Homo sapiens: one gene and its partner. The protein of the gene in region 1 purifies or fractionates together with the protein of each later gene. This does not show direct contact. Each region holds a gene or a part of one and is shown on either strand. Other genes may lie near its edges. The genes, in order: SCIN and MEX3A.

Evidence for each region.
Region 2: the proteins of SCIN (region 1) and MEX3A purify together in Homo sapiens (affinity purification with western blotting, with the first as the bait; one study listed by BioGRID). This does not show direct contact.

The regions. Positions count from the first base shown.
Region 1 is NC_000007.14:12,625,954-12,629,977, reverse strand, and holds part of SCIN (scinderin), read right to left. Parts: intron 3,395-4,024; coding exon 3,179-3,394; intron 878-3,178; coding exon 756-877; intron 1-755. UniProt on the Homo sapiens protein: Ca(2+)-dependent actin filament-severing protein that has a regulatory function in exocytosis by affecting the organization of the microfilament network underneath the plasma membrane.
Region 2 is NC_000001.11:156,075,966-156,079,465, reverse strand, and holds part of MEX3A (RNA-binding protein MEX3A), read left to right. Parts: intron 1-1,783; coding exon 1,784-2,892; 3' UTR 2,893-3,500. UniProt on the Homo sapiens protein: RNA binding protein, may be involved in post-transcriptional regulatory mechanisms.

The DNA of each region.
Region 1 (4,024 bases):
TTTTTTAAGAATTATTTTCTTTTTTCCAGCCGTCTTAGCAATATTCTATTTTTACCTGATTTCACTTAATAAAAAGTTAGAGAATTTCACATTATATAATTTGTTGCAGAATCCCTATCCCTTGACATATCCTAGCATGGTGTATGCACATAAATTACTTGGTTGGACATTTGATCATTTCCTCCTTGAGCAGGGCATTGGCAAATTTAGACTTCAATTAAATCATCATGCAAAACCATGTAATATGAAAACACAGTTGCATATTTTTTCCATTATTCTTGTGAATTTAATGGAAACAAGAATAAGAATTGCATCAAGTTGAGGTATCAGTGGAATCACAAATTGTATCTCCTACAGGTTTTGCCATATTGCAACTTTGCAGTTCCAATTAGGATGGACCTCTGTGAATTTTAACCATAAGAAACCATGGTACCTGACACTTGCTGTTGCAGTGTTAACCTGCATACAAGATGAGATATTCAACTACATATCCACTAGGAGAACATCACTGGTTTAGGATATCAAAACTTTTTGCCTAGACTAGATAGCATGATCTTTATGTGACTCCTGCTGCCTGTGGATGGCAACTGCAAAACATAGTCAAAATCATGTAAAAAGAAAATACTATATGCATGCTATACAAATCTCACTGGGATGATTATAGGATTATTCTACCCCATAATGCATAGAATTTAATACTTTGGAGCAAAATCTGGCTCCTGTGGAACTCGAGATCTTTACCCGTATAAACTCACCACGTGTAGATAATCTGTCCTCTGGGATAGGTGTAGAGTATGATGTAGCAGTCACCACCATAGAATTCACCATATGAGTTTTGGTCAACTTGGATCCTACCATTGTTTTCTACACGCCAAATCTGGAAGGAATGGAATATATACAACAAATTACAATTTTCTTGATCTAATAATATTTCTCATAAGCTTTAAATAATTTTTGGTTCAAATCCATTATTAAACAACTTTTAAATTATTTATTAACTAGTTTACAAATCAAGCAAAGAAATTGTTATCGATTTGCCAATTTATTGACATTTTAACTACTTTTATGTGTCTTTTGCTTCCTCTACAGTATTAAGCTCAGTTCCGAGCCCATTGATTAATAAATACTTATTGTTTCATCTACTAGTGGAAATAACATGACACTCCAGTGGAATAAAAAACTGCAAGATTCAGCTCAGAAATATATATCTATTTTATAGTTAATTTTTTTCTTCAATTATGAAATAACATATATATATATTTTTTTCCCTGTGCTTTAAGATAGCGGACTATTATTTTCCCAGGCAAAACTTGATAGACTGTGACCAAATACTAAAAATGCTACAACACACTGAATGTTTGAGTCCCTCCACAATGTATGTTGAAATCCTAACCTCCAGTGTGATGGTATTAGGAGGTGGGACCTTTGGGAGGTAATTAGGTCATGAGGCTGGAGCCTTCATGAGTGAAATTAGTGCCCTTATAATCAGAAAGCTCTCTAGCTCCTTTTCCACCATGTGAGGATGCAGCAAAAAGTCTATGAACCTGAAAGTGGATCCTCCACCAAACACTGAGCCCATCAAAACCTTGAGCTTAGACTCCCCAGCCTCCAGACTGGTGAGAAATACATGTTTCTGCTTAAACCCCCAATCTATGGTACTTTTGTTATAGTAGCCTGAACAGACTAAGACCATGCCAATAATATGACTTCTGTTTTTAAAAGGTGCCATCCAGGAATAAGACCGAAATGTGATGCTGGGAGAAAAGCAGGCAGAACCACTTTCATTCTGCCTCCTCATCTTCAGCACAGATTAAACACCCTCCAACTTGGAGAGATGAGAATTGTAGATGAAACAGGAGAGTAACAAACGAAGGAGAGGCTGCCAGGCACTGTGTGTGTACATGCAAGCAAACACACACACACACACACACACACACACACACACGCGCGCACACTTGCCTAAGTTCTCAGTTGGGAAGGGCAGACTCTTTGCTTTGAAATCTGAAGATAAGCAAGTGGACAGGAACAGTGCAGTGCTTCTAGAGAGAGGCCACCCCATACTATCCTAGTGAGCAGAAGCCTTAGATCCTAGAGAGAGCACAAGATCCGAGAGAGAGCCCCCAGATTTCAGCAGCCCTAGGATGGCACAGGAGAAGGCTGCAGCCAGGACACAGCTGGTGCTGGGGACCAAGTTTGCCAGGAGGGCTGAGCTCTGGCAGGAATGTCTGAGCAGGAGACAGATGCAGACCCAGAAGTCAATACCCCTCTGACAACAGCCATGAGGGACATTTGTGACCTTCTCCCTTGGCACTTCCCACTCTCCAACACCCATGCCGCTTAGATTCACGCTTCACGTCTTTGAAAAGAGGAAAAATTATTTCCCTAATTTCTTGACCATATACTTTGGTCCAAGAATTGTAGTAAGCCCTAGGAATATAGAGATGAAATATTTCATTCCTGTCCTCAAGGAATCGATGAGAGCTCTAGGAGAAATCTGGCAGTAAATGAACAACTCTGTGGTAGGTATATGATAAATTATGTGAGAAGTATCGCTAGAGGTTGAGCACAGAGAAAGGCCACTTCAGCGCTGAGGGAAGCCTTCTCAGAAAAGGTATGGCTTGTGATTTAACTGAGTTGCCAAGGAGGCGTAGGAACATTAGCTAGATGGCAGAGGGGAAGTCAGTCCTCAAGGCAGTGGAAGGGTGAAGCCAAGATGACGGAAAGGGTCAAGGGTCCAGCTGAAGATGGATCTTCTCAGGAAGGCTGTGGAGAGCCATTAAATATGTATAAATATATTTAGATATACATTTATAAATATATATGTATATATACACACAGATATATGTGTATATATACACATTTATGTGTGTGTGTGTGTGTGTGTGTATACACACATTTCTCACTCTGTCACCCAGGCTGGAGTGCAGTGTTATGATCTTGGCTCACTGCAGCCTCCACCTCCCAGGCTCACGCGATTCTCATGCCTCAGCCTACCAAGTAGCTAGGACTATGGGCGAGCTCCATCACACCTGGCTAATTTTTGTATTTTGAGTAGAGGTGGGGTTTCACCATGTTGGCCAGGCTGATCTCGAACTCCTGTCCTCAAGTGATCTCCCCCACCCTCCCCCTACATACACTGGCATTAATGGGCTTGATAAAAACAAAAACAGGTAAATACCTCCACTTTGCCAGAACCATCATCCACCATATTGTGCTGGGCTGCCATCTGCGGAGAACTGTGTAATTTTGAGGCATCAAAGGGAATTTGTTTTATTTGAGCCACTTTCTCTGTGACATAAACTTTCCCGAAGCCATCACTCTGATCTTTATCTCTCCAGTCCTTAAAAAACTGTTTGAAGATTGGTGTTTCACCTCCTTCTGGAAGAACTTGAATCTGAAATTTAAAATAATAATAATAGTAAACAGGAAAATAAGAAATTAAGGGAAAATATGAATCTGGCAGTGGAGACAAAAGTAAGGAAATGGAAAATTATCCTGGTTTAGCTATCAAGCTCATATAATCCAAAATTGCTTTTTCTCACAACTAAAGTAATTGCCGCTGAATTTGAATATTTGAGAGAAGAATCAAGTTCTTTAATATGTTACCCCTGCAGTAAAATAAGTTTGTCTTTCTACATAAGGTTCACAAGAGCTCTGTGACCTGGAAGAAATGATCTCATTGTGTTCCTTGTGCAGGGACATAAAAATGAGGAGAGTAGATGAGGCTGAGAGATTCGGAAAGGAAAGGAGTAACTAGCCAGGGTCTAAATTGATTTCGATGAAGACAAATATCATCTGGGTTTCAGGCCAAGTCTGCACAACTTGCTCTAAGGAATAATAACTCTTAAGTGCTCTTAGCTAAACCTACTGTGGTTTACTATCTTGAATTAAAGGCTGTGGAGGAAGTGAATGGGCAGCTCTATGGAAAGTCTGATGTGCAGTTTCTAAAAAATTCTAACCCCCACGCAGATAAAGAAGAGGGACACCAGATTGCAGCAGACAGGCAGGTGGAGAATCACTTCAC
Region 2 (3,500 bases), on another chromosome or scaffold:
GGCGGGTGGATCACCTGAGGTCAGGAGTTCAAGACCAGCCTGGCCAACGTGGTGAAACCCCATCTCTACTAAAAAATACAAAAAATTAGCTGGGCGTGGTGGCAGGTGCCTGTGATCCCAGCTACTCGGGAGGCTGAGGCAGGAGAATCGCTTGAACCCAGGAGGCAGAGGTTGCAGTGAGCCGAGATTATGCCACTGCACTCCAGCCTGGGTGACAGAGCAAGACTCCATCTCAAAAAAAAACAAACAAAAAAAGTGAGGGAGGGTCCCCCAACCTACTCTCTTCCCCTCACCCCCCAATCTGCCAGCGTTGAAGAAGCAGCCATCTGGAGTGGAGGAAGGAGGAAAAAATGAGCTCACCTCAGGTCTCAGGTTGGAGGGTTGGGGCAGAGGCAGAAAAGTAGGACCACTTGGTTTCGGTTGGAGAGAGAAGGGGAATAGTGAGTTGTGCTCAGAGAAGGGTGTGAGTGGGTCTATATGTGATTGGGGGTGAAAGTCATGGGTGCGGGTGTGTATAGGAATGTGCTGTTTGTGTGCTGGGGAGGATGGGGATGGACAGTGGGATGTATGAAAGGCCGAAACACAGGGACTTGATGTGTGTGTGAAAGAGGTGTATAAAAGTGTACATTAGATTGGCCCCATAAGTATTATTTAGATAAAGGCACACCTCTTAGGTACATGTGTGTGAACTCACACACGTGACGTGTGCTTCCCAAAAGGGTATGAGTCTTGGAAGCTCTGTGTGAAGCTAGGAGCAGGGAAGAGGAAGGTGGGTAAGGAGGAGAGGGACTTGTCCAGACCCCCAGGTCGGCAGCTTTTAGAAACAGAATAGCCCTTACTTTTCTCTCTAGCCTTCTCCCTCTTTGTCTCTCTTTGTCTCATTTTTCTTCTTTCTCTTCCTGCCTTTCCCTAACCTCCCAGCTTTAACTCACTTCTACTTCAAAGCAGGAGTGTGGGTCCAAAATACCTCTCCCTCACCGTACTCAGCCCCAGCCCAGCTCAGCTGTCTTGCCCCCAGGGGACAGGGGGACAAGAGTGACACGGGGTTGGGCACTGTTCCCTCACACAGAAGTTTAACTCCATACTCCTCCTTTCCTCCTTGAACTTATGATTGTCAGACCTTTCCCAGTCCCCTACACTCTACTCGTTGCTGCAAACTCGCTATGAATTTGAGGCCCACTGAGAGAAACTACTGAGTGGAAGGCATGTGGGGCGGTCATAGAGCAGATAGACTTCAGTGGTCCCTGGGTAGTTTGGAGGACACTTTTAATGATCAAGGGTCAGATGAGTAGATTATGAGGTTACTGAGCACATTGGGGTTCTGTGGAAAGATCAGGGTCAGTGACAGATGTGGGGGGTGATTAAGTGATTTGGAAGTTTGTGAGTAGCCAGGAATCAGTAGAGAAATTGAAGGAAGAGCAAATGTTGGGAGAAAGGAGTGTAGTTTGTGAATGGATTTGAGTTACCAGCTTGTATGGGAGGGTCAGTGATTATTTGGGGGTTTTGAGGAGTGAATGAATTTGGAGGGCCCTGAATGGAACTCAGGGAAAGTTAGTACATTTTGAAATCTGTGGCTGAGAGAGACATTAGGCACATCTGAGATCTGATAAATGGTTTCTTCAAGTCAGGGTGGACTGTGTGTGCAGCAGTGGGCATTTCAAAGGGTAGACTGAAGTGTTCCTGGGAGGCTAGGTATTTGGGTAAGGATCAGGAATTTATTGGTCCCAGCACAAACCTTGCTGTGTGCGTTTCTTTGTCTCTCTCCTTCCCCGCCCTATCCCAGGCTGCAAGATTAAGGCCTTGAGGGCCAAGACCAACACCTACATCAAGACACCGGTGAGGGGCGAGGAACCAGTGTTCATGGTGACAGGGCGACGGGAGGACGTGGCCACAGCCCGGCGGGAAATCATCTCAGCAGCGGAGCACTTCTCCATGATCCGTGCCTCCCGCAACAAGTCAGGCGCCGCCTTTGGTGTGGCTCCTGCTCTGCCCGGCCAGGTGACCATCCGTGTGCGGGTGCCCTACCGCGTGGTGGGGCTGGTGGTGGGCCCCAAAGGGGCAACCATCAAGCGCATCCAGCAGCAAACCAACACATACATTATCACACCAAGCCGTGACCGCGACCCCGTGTTCGAGATCACGGGTGCCCCAGGCAACGTGGAGCGTGCGCGCGAGGAGATCGAGACGCACATCGCGGTGCGCACTGGCAAGATCCTCGAGTACAACAATGAAAACGACTTCCTGGCGGGGAGCCCCGACGCAGCAATCGATAGCCGCTACTCCGACGCCTGGCGGGTGCACCAGCCCGGCTGCAAGCCCCTCTCCACCTTCCGGCAGAACAGCCTGGGCTGCATCGGCGAGTGCGGAGTGGACTCTGGCTTTGAGGCCCCACGCCTGGGTGAGCAGGGCGGGGACTTTGGCTACGGCGGGTACCTCTTTCCGGGCTATGGCGTGGGCAAGCAGGATGTGTACTACGGCGTGGCCGAGACTAGCCCCCCGCTGTGGGCGGGCCAGGAGAACGCCACGCCCACCTCCGTGCTCTTCTCCTCTGCCTCCTCCTCCTCCTCCTCTTCCGCCAAGGCCCGCGCTGGGCCCCCGGGCGCACACCGCTCCCCTGCCACTTCCGCGGGACCCGAGCTGGCCGGACTCCCGAGGCGCCCCCCGGGAGAGCCGCTCCAGGGCTTCTCTAAACTTGGTGGGGGCGGCCTGCGGAGCCCCGGCGGCGGGCGGGATTGCATGGTCTGCTTTGAGAGCGAAGTGACTGCCGCCCTTGTGCCCTGCGGACACAACCTGTTCTGCATGGAGTGTGCAGTACGCATCTGCGAGAGGACGGACCCAGAGTGTCCCGTCTGCCACATCACAGCCACGCAAGCCATCCGAATATTCTCCTAAGCCCCGTGCCCCATGCCTCCGGGGCCCACTCCACTGGGCCCACCCTGGACCTGTTTTCCACTAAAGCCTTTTGGAAAGCGGTGATTTGAGGGGCAAGGTGCTTAGAGATACTCGCTCGCTGGGGAAGGGGGGAGGGAGGCAGTGGTGGCTGGAGGGTGCGCCACTTTCAGAGCCTCTGGTCACCCTGTCCTGGAAAGATTGGGAGGGGGCCAGACTGAAAATTTTACTAGAGTTACAACTCTGATACCTCAACACACCCTTAAATCTGGAAGCAGCTAAGAGAAACTTTTGTTTTGCCAGAGGTGGCCACTAAGGCATTCTGACGCCCTCTGCCCACCTCCCCCGCTGTGTGTCACTCCACCCCTTCTTCCGAGGAGGGGGTGGGTAAAAGGGAGAGGGAGAATTACCACCTGTATCTAGAGGTGCTCTTTGCAATCCCTAAGCCCTCTGGTCCTGACCTCCGACCTCCTAACATGACCCTTTACCTCCCACCCCACCCCCATATCCTGTTTGGGAAACTGTCACCAGTTTCCAGCAGTGTAAGGGAGTTGGAGTCCTATCAGAAGTTGCATAGATCTTCTAGGGGTTGGGGAGAGAAGCATGTCAAT